Regions from separate parts of the Homo sapiens genome. Here region 2 is linked to region 1. The links come from fine-mapping of genetic effects on gene expression. Tissue or cell type: whole blood. Region 1 holds a variant in brackets; the other region holds the start of a gene. All regions are shown on one strand. Distances are between the middles of the regions. Region 1 overlaps ME3 (malic enzyme 3). Region 2 holds the start of ME3 (malic enzyme 3).

Region 1 (8,337 bases):
TCACATGCCCAGAGGTGGGCTTTGATTCCCATCAGCTCTGCTCACTCAATTGTCTCATACATCCTGCCCCCAATCACCCACTCATGCGAAACGTAGTTGGAAGACTGTGTCCCAATTATCTGCCCTTCTTAGAGACTTTCAACCACGTAACCCTGAAAGCAAAACTATGTTTATAGCCTAATTTGAAAGGATATTCAGGTTTCTTTTACCTTGAAGTTTTCTGCTTTAATGTGGGGCTTCATTTTTACTCCATTTAGCATCTCAGTTTGTAGAAAATAGGAGGCATGTCTGCTCCAGATATCATCAAGATCAACACAACTGAGTTTATGAGTGATTTTCTCATCTGAGAGAGAATTAGCTTTGAATCCAGACCCAATAGAAAGCTCAGATCCAGGATTCTAGGAGAGGCACCACCACACAAGGGTATCCTCTGAACCCTTGCTTTGGAAGGCATCATTTTATATCCTGGATACGGATGCTTAGATGTATGTTTTTGTGCCAGGAGGAACTGGTTATGGCAATGTGTGGGGGAGATGTTTATCCTTTGGATGAATATTTGGGTAGGAGGTTTGTGTTTCAAGAAACTGAGCACTAATTGTAAATACAACCATTTTGCTGTGATTGACTCACTTCTTATTCATTCTTTTATAGGATCTTGTGGAAACACATTATGTACATTAGGGAGACTCAGCTCATGCATTTCCATTGAATAAATCTGCTAAAGGAAAAGGCATTACTCCTCCAGCTCCTTTTCAGACAGGCAAGAATATAAATCTTGTGATTAAAACAACAATAATAACAGCAAACTTTTGTGGGGAACCATTAATTCCTAAGACAGGAGATCTCAGACAGATGTAGTAATAAGAACATTTGCCACGGAGAGAGAAGACATTAATATAGAGTGAGAGGCTCTGCTGTGTTACCTGCAAACTTCTATTTTTGGGGTATTGTAGTTGATAACCCAAGGCTCCTTCCAATCTAACATTCTCTAGAGATAGAATGGGCATGATGACAGTGATTTCTGGTGGGGCTTTCCAGACAGGTTTGGAAGTACAGTGGTTCACATTTTGATGAGGAGGCAAGTCGGGGGAGTAAAGTGGAAGGAGCTCAGGCTTAGGAATTCAAGGGACATGGATTTACATCCTGACCCTGCCACTTACTAGCAGTGTGATCTTGGGAAGGTTACTTGATCTATCTTTCCTGAAGTTTGCTATCTGTAGAAAGAGGATAACAGTTCTAACCTCCTAAGGTTGTTTTGAGGATTAAAAGAGATATTATAGCTATTTAAAGTGCTTGTTTAACACAATATCTGACACATTGTAGGCCCCCAGTAAATGCTAGTTTAAGCTCCCTTACCCTTTACTAGCAATGATATCATATTAGTAAGAGTTCTAAAAACTTGAAAGATAATGTGTCATCCACCCTTAGCCTACACTTCACATGAGTTTTCGTCCTTTTTTGAGCAAAAGCTTTTATTTTAACAAAGACACATTAAGTTCTACTTATTTATTTGTGTGCTGTGGTTGTGATTTTTTTTTGCATTTGTATATGAAAAATCAATAGTAAATGCTGATTTCCTTTTCCTGTGGCTGTAATTGCTATGTTAATTTAAAGGTCTGATTACAGAAATGAATGCAGCTGTGCTGCTCTTGCACTGCACAGCCCTGGATGTGCTGTGTGTGTACCCAGGCATGCTGCACTCCCTGTACTTACATCATTTAGGAGGAAGTTTCCAGTACCACAACCTCACAGGCAGTATTTAATCACCTCAAACTCTAGCTTTGAGGTTAGCCTGGAAATGAAAAGCCACTTGGGTTTACCACAACAGAAAAGTCAGAGGTACACCATTTCTAAGACAGCATGTGGGGAGGCACAGCCAGGCCTGGGGGGCTCCTGTGGGAAGCTGGGAGCCATGTGAGTTTCATACCCAGGTGCCATAGTAAAGACAGAACCTGCTTCCTTATGTGTGTGTGTGTGTGTGTGTGTGTGTGTGTGTGTGTGTATGCATGAGCATGTCTGCACATATATATTCATATATTTGCACAAATTCATAGATACATTATTTCTACATATCAAGCCTGTGCCCTGTAATCATCAGTGACTATTTTTCTGTGTGTGCAGAGTTCAGGATGTCATCTGGACATTTCTATGGTCTCCGTATCTCCATTTTCCTTATCTCCAATTTCTCCTACTCCCAGTTCAACTTCTTCATCAACCTCTACCAGATGAAATTGGTAATACATGAACTCCCCTTCTTAAAAAGTTTCCTGTGCTTCCTCCCACCTACAGCACAAAGTTAAACTCCTTAGCACAACGCACAAGGCCCTTCTCGAGGGGTGTCTCAATCGAGCCTCATCATCCCTACTCCCTAGTCTGTGCTGTGCGTGCTACACAAGACTCACTGCTCCTAAGTGCACACCAGGCTCTCTTGTTCCACATCTTTGTGCTGCCTACTCCCTTGCTTCTCTTAGCCCTGCTGGCTCTAACATCACTTCCCATGGAAATCTTCCCTGACAGCTCTAGACCAAATATGGGCTTTCTCATTGTGTCTGGGTGTTTATTCCACTGCCATGGCACTTATCACACTGCTGTAATGAGTTTTGCTTTTTTTTTTTTTTTTGTGCTTCTTGTTGTTGTTGTTGTTTACGTATTACCTTCAGTACTATAATAGGATCTCCCAAGGACCGTGATTGTTCTGTCAGTTTTTGTAACCCTAAGAGCCTGGCTTGGTGCTTCACACACATGGCAGATGCTTCATAGTATTTGTTAACTGAATGAGTTAATGGAGACTCCCTGAATGTACGTGTATAGATATTAGTTACGTATAAGACCCACACACTGTTAGTCTTGAAACCAATTGGGGATTCTGGATACAGGCACCATTACTGATTTGCTCATTTTTTTCGCCATTTTTTGCTTCTTTTACTTTTTACATTGATTCAAGAATGATGGCAGGCAAACAGATTCTTAACGCACTTGTCCAGATCTTTGGCTTCTCACTTTCTCTGTAATTCTACTCCTCTGGCCTCACAGCATCCTAAAGCTTAGCTTTTAGACCCTACTCTGCTACTTACCAGCTGCTGTGTAACTATAAGCAAAGCACTTAAGGAGAAACAGAAACTAACCTTCTTAGGAACACCTTCATGTATCTTGCTCATTTAATTCCCATAACACCCTTTTAGATAATCATTTATCAACTCTGTATTTTCAGGATGAAGAAACTGAGGATTTGAGAAGTTAAGTAACTTGTTCAAGATCACACACAGCAAATAGAAAAGCCAGAGTACAAATGCAGCTCCGATTCCAAAACTTGTGCATGTTCTACTGGACTGCTTTGTCCTCTCCAGATCTCACTTTCTCCATCTGAAACATCACCAGGTTGTTAGAGGAGTAAGTCAGGAATGAGGGCTATGCATGCCCTGCAGGCTGTCATGTGTGTCTGGGCATAGGGAATGTTGTCACTCTGGAGGTGCACCAAGGGATGCTTCTCCTGAACCAGTGTTGGTTGCAGTGGTTGGGCAGTGCTCAGCCACTACTCTTCAGTCCTGGCCATGACCTCACTCCCTCTCTTCATGAGTGTTTATGCCAGGCAGTGTCCTAAAAGCATTTCACAGACATTATCTCATTTTAAAGACTATAAAAGCTCCAAGGGGCAAATACCTTAGTTAGTCTCATATAGATTAAAACAAACAAACAAAAAAAAAAAGAAAGAAAAACTGGGTTCAGAGAATGTAATAGGCATCCCTAAGCTCTCACAGAGGATTTAACCCAGAAAGTCTCAAACCAGACATACCCCGCCCTGCCCCCAACACATTT[A/C]CCACTACACTGAATTGCCTCCAATTCCTACAACCCCTCAGAAGCTTCAGGCTTCCATAGCACCCAGGTTTCTTTCTAGGACCCTTGTAGGCTGGTAAATGATCTCTACCATCTCTACCTGAAAATGTGTGAGCTTTAGCCCAAAGCTTCCCAGGATACGGGGACTAGGTTAAACAAAGCAGCCCCAGAAGAACTAGGGAAAGAAATTATCAAGCCAAAAGACCAGGAGTCCAGTTCTGGCTCTGCCATTTGACCAGACTGTGCTTATCTCTCAACTTCCCTAAGTCTGTTTCCTTGTCTGCAAGATGAGTATCAACATCACTGAGTTGTTCTGGGAAATGACATAGGCTGTGTTAGTCCATTTGTTGCTGCTGTAACAGAATATCACAGACCAGGTAATTTAGAAAGGAAAAAAAGTTATTTCCTCACAGCTCTGGAGCTGGGAAGTCCAAGAACATGGTTCTGGAATCTGGCAACAGCAAGCCTGCAAGACAGAGACAGGAAATAAAGTAGAACTCATCCTTTTTTTAGAAACCTACTCCTGAGATAACTAACCCACACCCAAGATAATGGCTTTAATCTATTCTTGAGGGCTCTCATCATCTCTTAATGGTCCCACCTCTTAATACCATTACAATGGAGAGTAAGTTAGTTTCCAATACATGAAATTTGGAGGACACATTCAAACCACAGCAGGCTATCATAACAAAATACCATAGACTGTGTGGCTTATTCTCACAGTTCTGGAGGCTGGAAGTCTAGGATTGGGGTACCATCATGGTTTCTGGTGAGGGCCCTCTCCCTGGCTTGCAGACAGCCACATTCTCACGGCGTCCTCACGTGGCCCTTCCTCAGTGTATGCAGGTGGAGAGAGAAAGCTTTGATGTCCCTCCCTGTTCTTATAGAGCCAATCACCCAATCCTCTTCTTACAGGGCCAAGGCTCAAGTGATCCTCCCACTTCAGCCTCCTGAGTAGCTGTGACTACAGGTGTGCACTACCACGCCTGGCTAATTTTTGTAGGGATTTCATCATGTTGCCCAGGCTGGTCTGGAACTCCTGGGCTCAAACGGTCCATCTGCCTTGGCCTCCCAAAGTTCTGGGATTACAGGTGTGAACCAGCGTGTCTAGCCTGTTCCTAATTTTTTAACGGTGCCTGGTAACATCCAGAACGGAGCAAAGATACAATTTCACCCCTCAAGAATTACCATTTAGAGGTTCTGGGTTTTTTGTTGTTGTTGTTGTTATTCTCACGATTACAAGTCAATTAAAATGGATAATCCTGTTTAAATTAACTTCTATGGTTTGTTATCAATCACAGTTTCAGTTTGTCCTAACAGAGAAGCCAAGGATAGTGTTCAAAGGAACCTTCCATAAGATTTCCAAGAAAGAAGACAATGGACAAACCAGCTGCTATCTATGATGTTTTATTTTCAGAATGAAACACAAAACAAACAAAAAAAAACACAAAAGACCCAGAACCATTTACTAGCATGTGAATGTGATCCTGTCTCTAACTTGAGCCTTCATGCATAGTAGACAATACCCCAGGTATGGGACTAAAATGCTACCAGTCATTCTTTGTTTTTTGGATAATTTTCTTTTGGCAGCATGATAATTTATTTCAAACCAAAGTCCACGACTTTGCTGAGACACAGGTAAGCTGAGCGACAGTAAGAAAGACAGTCTCATGATCTGATTATGAGCTAAGAAAACTGGGAAGTCTAGAGTTTAAAAAGCTGTCCCACGGGCATGCTGACCATTAGCTGACATGCTACTCACAACCAGGATGTCAGGAGGGAGGTTGGGAACATCATAGCAGTCTAAGGAGAAGACAGTCCTGGTGGGGATGACTGTGGTACCCATGTAGAGACATGAACCCAAGCTCTGGCTCCATACAACCCAGTTCATTTGGGAGGGGGATTTAAATCAGGGCCCCCACTTCTGACTGACCAGATGGAGGCATCCCTGAACACCCCTCTCAGGTTTCCCAATCTCTCCTCCCTCTACTCTTCCTTCTCCTTTTTTTCTTCCTCCTTCCCTTCCTCATGCCCAAAATGGCTGTTTGTAGGAATGGAAGGAGAGGGGTGTATTTTGGGAGGGATTTGGGGACTCAATTAATGGAACATATCAAGGTTAAGGGAGAATAAGTGCAGGAAGGAAATTCTGGTTCCTTTTCTTTCCTCCTATCTGGACTCCAAAGGCACCGTCATGGCAGAATCAGCATGGGGCTGTGAGCCAGTGGCCCTACTCTCATCTCAGCTCTGCCACTGATGGTGGGCCTGTCATTTAACTGCGTTGAGCCCAGGTTTCCCCTCTAGATGGTGGACATGTAACCTCCCCAAATGACCCCATGAGGCCCATGGTAGATGCTTCTGTCTGTGAAGTCCTTCATGATTGCATCTGATGGACAGACTCCTCTCCTCTTCCGGGCCCCTCTAGCACGGTCCTCTGTTGCCCTCTGGCCTATAGAACAGCATGCATTTGGGTTTGAGAGCAACCTGGATTTGCAGCCAAGACACCCATGAGAGTACCTTCCTCTCCCTCACAACCACCCTTCTCATACCAATCAAGTCTCAATGTCCCTAAGCGTCCTGTCTAGCACCTTTTCATTTCTCTTATTACATTTCTCCTCCATGCCCTTACTTTCCAGCTATTTTAATGTGCTCAGTGGAATGTGGCATTTAACAGCACGGGCTCTAGAACCAGCATTACCTGGGTTCAGATTCTGACTTTGCCTCCCCAGACTGTGGCACCTTGGACCAATTATGTAAGCATGTTGTGCTCAGTTTCCTGATCTACAAAATAGGGTTAATAATAGCACCCCTCATGTGGCTGTATGAGAGTTAATAAATCAAAACACACAAAGCCCAGGAAAGTACCTAGCAAATAGTAAGTGACTAAATGTCAGTCTGTCACTGTGCTTATGTCCTTGGTCACATCTCTCTTGTGGGTCAATGAGCTGCTTGGAGACTGTAATGTGGCCTTGGACTTTACAGAGATGAGTTTCTGTGACCAGAGAATAAGCAACCAAATCCTCAGCCTGGCCACACAATGCTGGATGGTGACTCAGTGGTCATTACTGACATGCATATCGGACTCACAGCAGTTTTCTGTGGGAACCCTCAACATCCTGACTCTGTGTCCCTGGGCACAGGGGCCGTGCAGTGCTCAGGCGGAGAGTGACTAAGTGCTGCCATCCAGCTGTGGTGGCTGACTCATGCATGAGGACTGAAGGATGTGGATTCTGAAAGCCCTTCCTCACCGTTGTGTTTCCTGTCCATATAGCCCTGCCCCAGGGCCTGGGGCTCCCATGGAGGACCAGTGCCCAGGAGAGATTCGTGTGACTGCAGAGCACCTGGGTTGCCCTGAAGGAAACCACTGGCCTTCAGTATCACTCACTGCACCTGGGCCCACCCAAGGTCTCTGGAGTGCAGTTCTGCCCCTGTGGCCTCCTCTGTCCCCTCCTTCACAGCGCAGGCTGTCACACATGTGGCAGGTTCTCCAACATATGGCCAGAGAATCAGTGTATGCAGTACTGGAGGGGCCTGAGGATGATGTCCAGGGCCATTCCTCATTTTGCAGACATAGAGACTAATGTCTGAGGGAGGCAGGGTCTTCAGCAATACAGTCAGGACTAGAATCCTGAGGACTAATTCCCAAGTCCATGTTCTTTTCAGGAAACCCTGCTAAAGTAAAAGAATACAACTTCTTGGCTGTAGTGTGAGGAACAGGCAGAAGCAGGCACAGGGAAGCGAGTCCAAGATACCTGGCTTACAGAGCCTGCTCTACCCCACCCCCCTTGGCCATTTTGTCTCCCTTCTTCACTCCCCTATTTAGGCTCTCGGATCAGGCAGTTCCCCACTACTTCCCCACAAACTGTGAGGCCCCTGTGAAGCTGCTCTCCCAGAGGCCCTCTGCTCAGGCTGCACTCTCTTGCACCCAGCAGCCCTTGAACACATCACTTTTGGAAGTATCCAGTCCACACCACTATGCTGTTGGAGTCAGGCAGGTCAGAGTTGGAATCACAGAAACTATGTGGCCATGGACAAGGTACTTAGCCTCTTTAAGCCTCAGTTTCTTCATCTGTGGTCTTCTTCATATAGGTAAAATAAAATAATTTGGCTGGGCATGGTGGCTCACACCTGTAATCCCAGCCCTTTGGGAGGCTGAGGCAGGAGGATCACCTGAGGTCAGGAGTTCGAGACCAGCCTGGCCAACATGATGAAACCCTCTCTCTCCTAAAAATACAAAAATTAGCCGGTCATGATGGTGGGTGCCTGTAATCCCTCCTATTCAGGAGGCTGAGGCAGGAGAATTGCTTGAACCCGAGAGGCGGAGGTTGCAGTGAGTTGAAATTGTGCCACTACACTCCAGCCTGGATGACAAGAATAAAACTCTATCTCAAAATAATTTATAACTATCAGAACAGTGCCTGGCAGCCCGTAGGCTTCCAATGTGCCATGCCTGTTATTATTATTGCCTGTTATTTTTAAAGCTTCACTCAAATTGTCTTTATTATG
Region 2 (8,337 bases), 37 kb before region 1:
AGATCTGGAGCTGAGCAAAATGGCATGATAGCTCGTGAGGCTAAATGACTTAGCATTTATAAAGTGCTTAGAACAGCACCTGGCACGTAGGTGGTAAGTGTATGCTATAATGCATTTTAAATAAATAAATAAATCCAGCAAAAAACAACGTGAGAAGTGATGTTAGGATCTCAGTTTTATCCATGAGGATGGTGAGGCTTAAAGAGGTCACATAAAATGCTCAAAGTCACTCACTGGTAGAGAGTCCAGACTATCTGGATTTAAAGGTGTTCACTTTTATGAGCCTCTTTGCACAATAGGAGAGATTTTCAAAAGTGCAATAAAAGTGAATAGGAGAGATAAAAATAGCAGAGTTTGTGGGCATCAGGGAGGGAGGGTAAGCTGCTGGTTGGCACTCTCGGAAGGCTCATTGGAGGAGGTAGTGTTTGAGTAGAATTGTAAAGGACAGACAGGGCTTCAACTGGCAGATGCTGGAAGCAGAGGAAACTGCTGAGCAAAGGCCCAGAGTTCAGGGCACATAAGCAGAGTGATGAGTATGCAGACCAGGAAGAAATAAATGATCCCCATAATTCTCCTTTGCTGCAAATAATAATAATAATGATAGAGTTGAAGTGCTTACAAATATTACTAGCAGCAATATGAATTTAAAGAGTTCTTTGGGGCAATCATGAACATTAAATGTTGTGCAGAATATTACGAATAAGTTTGTGAAGCAATGGGATTAACTGAAAAATAATGAATTTTATATTCACCTCCTTTTTAAAATCCATGTGTAAGGTCATTAACATCTGCTTTCAGAAGATAAGAGATCTTGTTTTAAGATAGCTGACTGAGTTAAAAATCTGACTTGAAGCCATTTTGTGCCCTTTTAACAATGTACCAAATTTAGTTTCAATTAATTCCACTCCTTGGAAGGTTATGCACAAATTTGAACCACAATTATATTTAATTCAAGAAACTGAGTTAATTCTAAGTGCCAGGCACTTTCCCAGGTATAGAGATGCAAAGAATTATAAATGGTGGTTGTAGTCATCAAGGAATTCACAATCTAGTAGGGAAACAGGTAGATATTTAAATCTCTGTAATCAAAATGGAAAAGCAAAAGTATTAACTATACCTGGAATATGGAACTGTTGGCTGGAGGAGATGGAATGAGATTCCTTCTCTGCCATCCCAAGAAGCATCATTACAATGATGGCAGAAGTCAGTAAATGGGATATGAAAGGAGAGGGGCCAAGACAAATTATGGAGACCCATTAGTTCTATATAGTGCTGGACCAGATCACCAGATCACAAGCCAACTTCCTGGCTGGCTAAGGAAGTCAGAGTTGTATGGAGTTGGAAGAAGATCTGTAATGTTTCCATGGTTCTGAACCTGGTCTCTGAAATCCTATATTCAGCTCTAAAAGTAAGGAAGTTGCCACAAAAGCAGAAATGGAAACCACACGTGCCAATAAAAACAGCTCACAGTTTCTGATCACCCACTACGGGCTAAGCACTTCAACAGAAAATGAGTATTATATTTAGACTTCTAGTTAGTGGTCCCTAGGAACCATTCTCCCCTTCTTCCTTTTAGTAATAGACTCCCCACTGAACTTCAGTAGAGCACATACATGCCTTTCCTACTACAAACAATATTTTCCAGCCCTCCCTGTAGCTTGATATGAATGTGTGACTTAGTTTTTACCAATGGAATGTGAGTAGAAGTAATATATACAACTTTCATGTCACTTCCACAGAACAGATTTGCTTTGGCTGGGCATAGAGGTTCACGCCTGTAATCCCAGCACTTTGGGAGGCCGAGGCAGGAGGATTGCTTGAGCCCAGGAGTTCAAGAACAGCCTAAACAACACAGTGAGACCCTGTCCCAATTAAAAAAACAAATCGATTTGCTTTCCCTCTGTTTCCTTGTTCCCGCTTTCCACGGCTGGGATGCTAACATGGTGTTAGCGCTGTGTAGAGGCGGGCAACAGCTACAGAAGAGCCTGGCAGCAAAAGAGAAAACCTGGGTCCCTGGACAACTGTATGGAACTGAGAAGCCACCACCTCCTCTTGCTACTGCCTTCTGTCACTGCTCCTGGTGGACCTGCCTTTAACCTTTTCTTTCCTGTCACCAAAGAACAAACACACACACAAAACAACATTGTAGAATTATGCCTGGGTTAAGAGAATATAGGCCACAGGTGAGGACATGTAAGAGACTTTTATATGTAAACTGTACAAGCTTTAGTGAATTGATGCTATAAAAATTATGTTCGCTTGTTTGGAAACCTTTGTTGTTTACATCCTGGTTTCAAATGACTAAAGTTACCTATTAGATATCCTCCAGGGGAGGGAAAGGTCATTGTATTCAGCAAGGGCAAACTGGTTCAACAATCAATTTCCAAATATTTGCATGCACTAGATACCAAAGATGGAAACACACATGATCTCTGCCCCCCAAAGATGTTGACTGGTGGGAAGAAGTGCCAATATAAAAATAGTGTTGAAAGGATTTAGTTAATACTATTGGTTGCACACAATCACACATCTGACACAAACTGGTTTAAGGCAGAAAAAAAGATCATTTATAAGCTTATGTAAATATGCAGTCCAAGAGTAAACCTGACTTCAGGGATGTAAACCCTACTGGATGAGAATCTTCATGGATGGGGCCTGGAAAGCTGTATTTTTGCCCCATCCTTATTTCCTACCAGGTAATTGTAATTCTGTTTTGGAAATAACTATTTTACGTAGATCATTCAAGTTGAAAATTAGATATTACACAGGGAGGAGAGAGACTGCAGGAGGAGACGATTATTCCTGAAGGGATGAGGGAATCCTGAACTCAGGCAGGAGCACCCCTTAGCACATTATGGGCCATGATGTCTGCTTGGTACTTACAACGGGGCTAATGCTGGCACCGGGAGCTTTGAAGGGGTGTCAGCAGAGGACCGTGCCAACTGTCTGTCAGTAAGTCTAAGGGTTCACGATCCTTATGAAAGTGGCTGCCACTTCCCTTCACCTAACAACTATTTATTGTGCAACTACATACCAGGCAGTGAGCTAGGCAGTGAGGACACACAGGTTCACAGGCAAAGAGCCTCTCTTCATGAAGCTTACATTCTAGACAGGAGATAGTCAGTAAACAATCAGAAAAACAAGCGCGCTACTGACTGTGTTAAGTTCTCTAAAGAGAAAAACCCCTTCACTCTATAGTTCCTAGTGCAGGCTGACATTGAATGGGATAGAGGAAAGGCCTTCGAGTTGACAACTTAGTGGAGAACTGAGAGGTGGGAATGAAGTAGTGGTTTGCAAGGCTGGAGTATGAGCCTTCCAAGGAGAGGCAATAGCAAGTGCAAAGGCCCTGCAGTGGGAGGGAACCAAGTGGGGTGAAGACACAGGAAGGATCAAGTATGGCCAGAGATCAGTGAGAAGGAAAGAGTAGAGTAGGATAAGTCTGAAGAGGCTGGCAAGAGCCAGTTTATGGGAAATCTTGTAGGCCCTGAAAGTTTGGATTTTATTCCACACACAACAAAGTGTTTGCTTTAAAAGGAATCTCCTGACTACTGTGTGGAGAAAGTATAAAATTAAGTTTGGGGCTAGATGGACCCCAAGATCCCTGTCTGGCCCCAATAACCCATGGCAAACTCCATGGGGTCCTCAGAAGTCCTCTTAGTAACTGTGGCTCCTATGTCAATGATGCTTAATAGAAGTATCCGCAAAAACAGAAATGTTCTGTATCTGCATACAAGTGGCTCTTGAACTGGAAATGTGGCTAGCGTGACTGCAGAACTGGATGTTAAATTTTATTCTATATAGACTAATTTATTTACGTTTATATAGCCACACGTGGCGAATGGCTATTATATTGGACAGCACAAGGCAACACTGAGCACCGAATGCCTGAGGATTTCTACTCCAAATCCTGAAGGCACGCCCTTCCCCGAATGTTGGGAGAGTGCGAGGATATGCTGACCCCCAAACGCAAATCCCCCTCTGTGCATTTAGTCTTGCCAAGATGGAGAGTCTCAGGCGGGCATTCTGAGCTGCTTCTTGTCACTGGGGAAAACCACGTGCACGCAGTGCTGAGGCGCCCCACGCGCGTCCTCAGGGGAAGCCAGGCACTGAGAACAAAGGTTGTGGGACCGCTCTTTGAGGAACTCACCAGCTCCGCGAGCTCGCGGCCGCCAGCGCGGTCCACCCATTGGCGGGAGAGGACTCACAGACCGCAGCTCCTCACCCCGCCTGCTCCGCAGCGGGACCGCGTAGACCTCAGCTCCCCGAGCAGCGCAGGTGGGCCAGGGAAGGAGAGGACCGAGGCAAGCCACCACGCGGGATTAGGGGTACGGGGACCCCTCGCCGCGCAGTCGCCTCTTTTTCACAGGGATGGGGGCAGGGGTGGCGCCGGCTGTCACCCGCACCGGATCTGCTTCCAGGGCTTGGTTTCGCTTTGCCTGGCTCTTGGCTAGGCCTGGCGCCCCGCGCGGAGCCGAGCAGGTGGCAGCCGAGGAGTGGCGGGGGCTGGAACATTTAACCCTTTGGGAGCACCTGCCCTCTCCCAGAGGGCGCGTCCCCGGATCAGGCCCGGTGCCCCGCAGCGCGCGTGGGTCCTGGCTGGCTGGAAGGAGGCCCTGACCTTGCTTTCTCTCCCGTGCCAGGTCTGCCAAGGACCATGGGTGCCGCGCTGGGGACAGGCACGCGGCTGGCTCCCTGGCCGGGCCGGGCCTGCGGCGCCCTCCCGCGCTGGACACCCACCGCGCCCGCCCAAGGCTGCCACTCCAAGCCTGGCCCGGCGCGCCCTGTGCCCCTGAAGAAGCGCGGATACGATGTCACCAGGAACCCTCATCTCAACAAGGTAATGGGCCAGAGGGCAGGACGGCCCGCGTTGCGATCCCGTGGCTGCCGGAAAATTGCGCCCCGCCCCCTGGACCCAGAAAGGATCCTCCCGGGCGCCCTTCCAGCGGTTTTTCTGTTTTTGCCTTGCAGGGGCTTGTTGTGACTTGGTTTGGCTTTCTTGTCCCTCCTCTCCCTTTTATGCGTGGAGAGAGGCGACCAGTAATGCAGGGAGCCTAATTTCTTCTGCAGTAACAACACAGACCAGGTTTAGATCCTCGCGGTCAGTCTGACCTGCGGTCAGCTCTCCCCTTGATGCTTACTAATTTTATTGGTCTTGGGCAGTTCATTTAACCTACATGAGCCTAGGTTTCCTTATCTGTAAAAGAGATATAATTGTCTTAGGAATGTCGTGAGATCTAAAGAGAAAATGCGGGTAGAAAATGGGGGTACGTTAGAACAGTGCCTGGTACCCAGTGGGAGAATAAATAAGGTTATGATTATTATTCTGAGAAAAAGATTAATTTGAGAGCAAGGATGGAAAAGTCTAGACTTATAGAAATTTTCGAGCTTGCAGGAGCATTAGAGATCCTAGTTTAAACCTCTTCTTTTACAAAAAACAAGACAAAGGAAACTTGCCCAAGGTCACCAGCTAGTTAGTTCTGGCTCTGCCACTGGAATCCAGATCTCCAATGCTTTGGTCGAGTTCAACCCACCGCTAGCTCTTTTGTATTTGTTTTTGGGAATAGAGTTTAGTATCTTTGGTTCAGAGGATTGGGTGAGAGAAATAGAAGCAAGGACAGATTTAGTCCTGTCTCCCCCTACCTCCTCAAATTAACTCACATATCTCATTTAACTTATCTGAGGCCCAACTTTCTCCAGCCTAAAATAGATATTATGATAGACCCACCATTTCTATCTCATTTGGTTATTGTGACAATAAAATGAATCACTGAACTTGAAATCATATTTTAAACTGTATAAAGTGCTGAATAACAATTACTGCAAAATAAATTTTTTTTTCATAATTGCTCTGACTCTGGATTGTGAAATTCAGGTGAGGCAGTCTGTATGGAAAAGATGTTTTTGAGAAGTAGGAACAACTATATAATGTGAAGTATTGTGACTGTTTCCTACAGAACTAATAGAAGCGGCTAAGGAAAAAAAAATCAAAATCAACCTCTATCACATTGGAGTCCTGCTCTTTCCAAAAGAAACCTTAAATTGTTTGGACGCTACCACTTTCCAAAGTGTTCAAGGTGTTTGTTATCACCTTGAATTACTTTGCTAGTAAGCGTTAGAAAATACAAACTGGCTTAAGCACACAAAGGCTCCTTTATCTAAAGAATCTAGAGGAAGGGTTGCAGGCACGGCTTGAACCACAAGCCCAGATGGCATTGCTCAAGATGCAGATTCTCTCTGGCTCTCTACTCTGCCTCTCTGCAAGGTCAGTTTCATCCTCAAGCTCTATTCAGTGAAGTCTCTCACTTCGTTATTGCCACAGTCCTCCATCTCCTGTTCTCACACCACATCATCCAGGAATAGAAAGATACTTTTATTCTGGTAGCTCTTGGGGAAGAGAAAATACCCTTTCTCTGACGCCTCAGAAAGCGAATCCTTCTGCCTTATTGACTCTGATTAGATTCTCTCTTCCCATTCCCAAACCAAAACCAATCACCAGTAATTAAAGCCGGTCAGAGCCCACCCCTGGAGTTAAAATGGGGTTTAAGGTAGGGCCACCCACACCATCTGGCTTGGAATAAAGGGAATATAGATCCTCACAGTAAATATGGATAGTGTCATCAGAAGGAGGAGGAATGGATGTAGAAAGCAAAACAATAAATTCCCACTACAGGCTCCAATCATTGTGAAAATAATTGCCTTAGAATTACTGGCATGTTACCAACCAGCATTTATTGCTTTGTTAAGTAGTTAAGAAAATGAAGGAAGATCTTTAAGTCTTTTTTTAAAACCTAGGTTTTGGTCCCCTGAAATCATTCTTGCCCCTGTCGTTTGCCTCTGATGTAAATTTTTTTCTCCCAAGTACTATAAATAAGTTGTTGATATGGTTTGGCTGTGTCCCCATACAAATCTCATCTTGAATTATAATCCCCATAATCCCCACGTGTTGTGGAAGGAACCCTGTGGGAGGTAATTGAATCACGGGGGTGGTTCCCCTGCATGCTGTTCTCGTGATAATGAATGAGTTCTCACGAGACCTGATGGTTTTATAAGTGCCTGACACATTTCCCCTGCTAGCGCTCATTCTCTCTCCTGCCACCCTCTGAGGAGGTGCCTTCGCCATGATTGTAAGTTTCTTGAGACCTTTCCAGCCATGTGGAACTGTGAGTCAATCAAACCTCTTTTCCTTATCAATTACCCAGTCTTGGGTATTTCTTCACAGCCGTGTAAGAACCAGACTAATACAGGTGTTATCCATAAATCTAAGGACCTGACCTTTCCATGATGTTAAACAACATCTTTTATATATTCCTGAAGTCAGCTGATGCTTGTCTGGGATAAGAAGGGTATCTAGAAGGAGGCTGACAGCCTGTTGGCATCCCCTATTCACTCACCCTTGGGGACAGAAGGGGAGCAACAGAGGGAGTGCTTCCTGGGAGTTACTGTGAGTGCCCTTCTCTTCCCACTGGAGTGCCACCCTCTGGCTGTTCTGTTGTCCTCCAGTGCTCAGAGAGTCTCCATGGAAGGCTTGAGCCTTGGTACTTTGCATCAGCCAGGTGGGAAGATAGTGCTGAGGTTAAATAGAACAATGAGGTTATTACTGAGGAAGCAAAATGGAAGTGCAGTTTTGAAAGAGTCTTCAATGCTGTGCTTAGTGTTCATGTCTGTGGGTGGATTTTTTTCTGTTAGAAGGAGAGCCCTTCCAGGCCAGGTAATGAGATTCGTCCACCTGTGTTTGGCATGGGGTAGTGCCTGAAAGATCTAGCTTAACATTAAATTCTTGGAATGTGTTCACTAGATTTGCAGCTCATTTCGACAGATTAGGAGTGGCATTTAAGTCGCAGCTGTATGACAGAGGGTGGTCAGGAGGTGGAATTATCTGAGAGAAGAGGTGCCGACCAGGGCAAGCATTGCTGCTATTGTGCATTCACTGGGTTCTGGTACCAGCTCCATCATGCTCTGGCCATGTGATCTGTGATGAATCTCATAAGCTCCTCTGCCCGTGTTACACTACTGCTTTGAGGATCATAGGAGACAGCCCCCATGTGGTAAATATTAGGTGATAATGAGGATGATTTCCATAATTGGGGTAGGAAGGCCCCTCAGAGATGATCTAGTCTGGAATTGTTCAGACTATGAGTTACAAACTATGAGACATGAAATTAGCTTAGTGGATCTACCAGCAATTTTTTTAAAGAAATGTATTAGAATGAAATAGAAAAATAGCAAATGCATTGAAGTTAATAAAGATGGATATTTTATCAGGTCAGCATGTAAAATGACTATTTTTACTGTGGATTGTAGTAACAAAAAGTTTTTGAAAATAATTGTTCTCATCCA

Evidence for each region.
Region 2: ME3 starts here. The variant in region 1 is fine-mapped to the expression of ME3 in whole blood (TOPMed, PIP 0.97).

What each region holds. Positions count from the first base shown.
Region 1 is chr11:86,631,633-86,639,969 of GRCh38, reverse strand. All of the region lies in intron 2 of ME3 (malic enzyme 3), which reads left to right. Among named protein-coding and RNA genes, the nearest start is that of ME3, 37 kb to the left of the region's middle. The variant A/C (reference allele first, on the strand shown) is at 3,817.
Region 2 is chr11:86,668,262-86,676,598 of GRCh38, reverse strand. It overlaps ME3 (malic enzyme 3), which reads left to right and starts at 3,983. Exons shown (of 15, transcript NM_001161586.3): 1 at 3,983-4,275; 2 at 4,641-4,837. The coding sequence starts at 4,655. RefSeq lists a silencer at 1,318-1,612.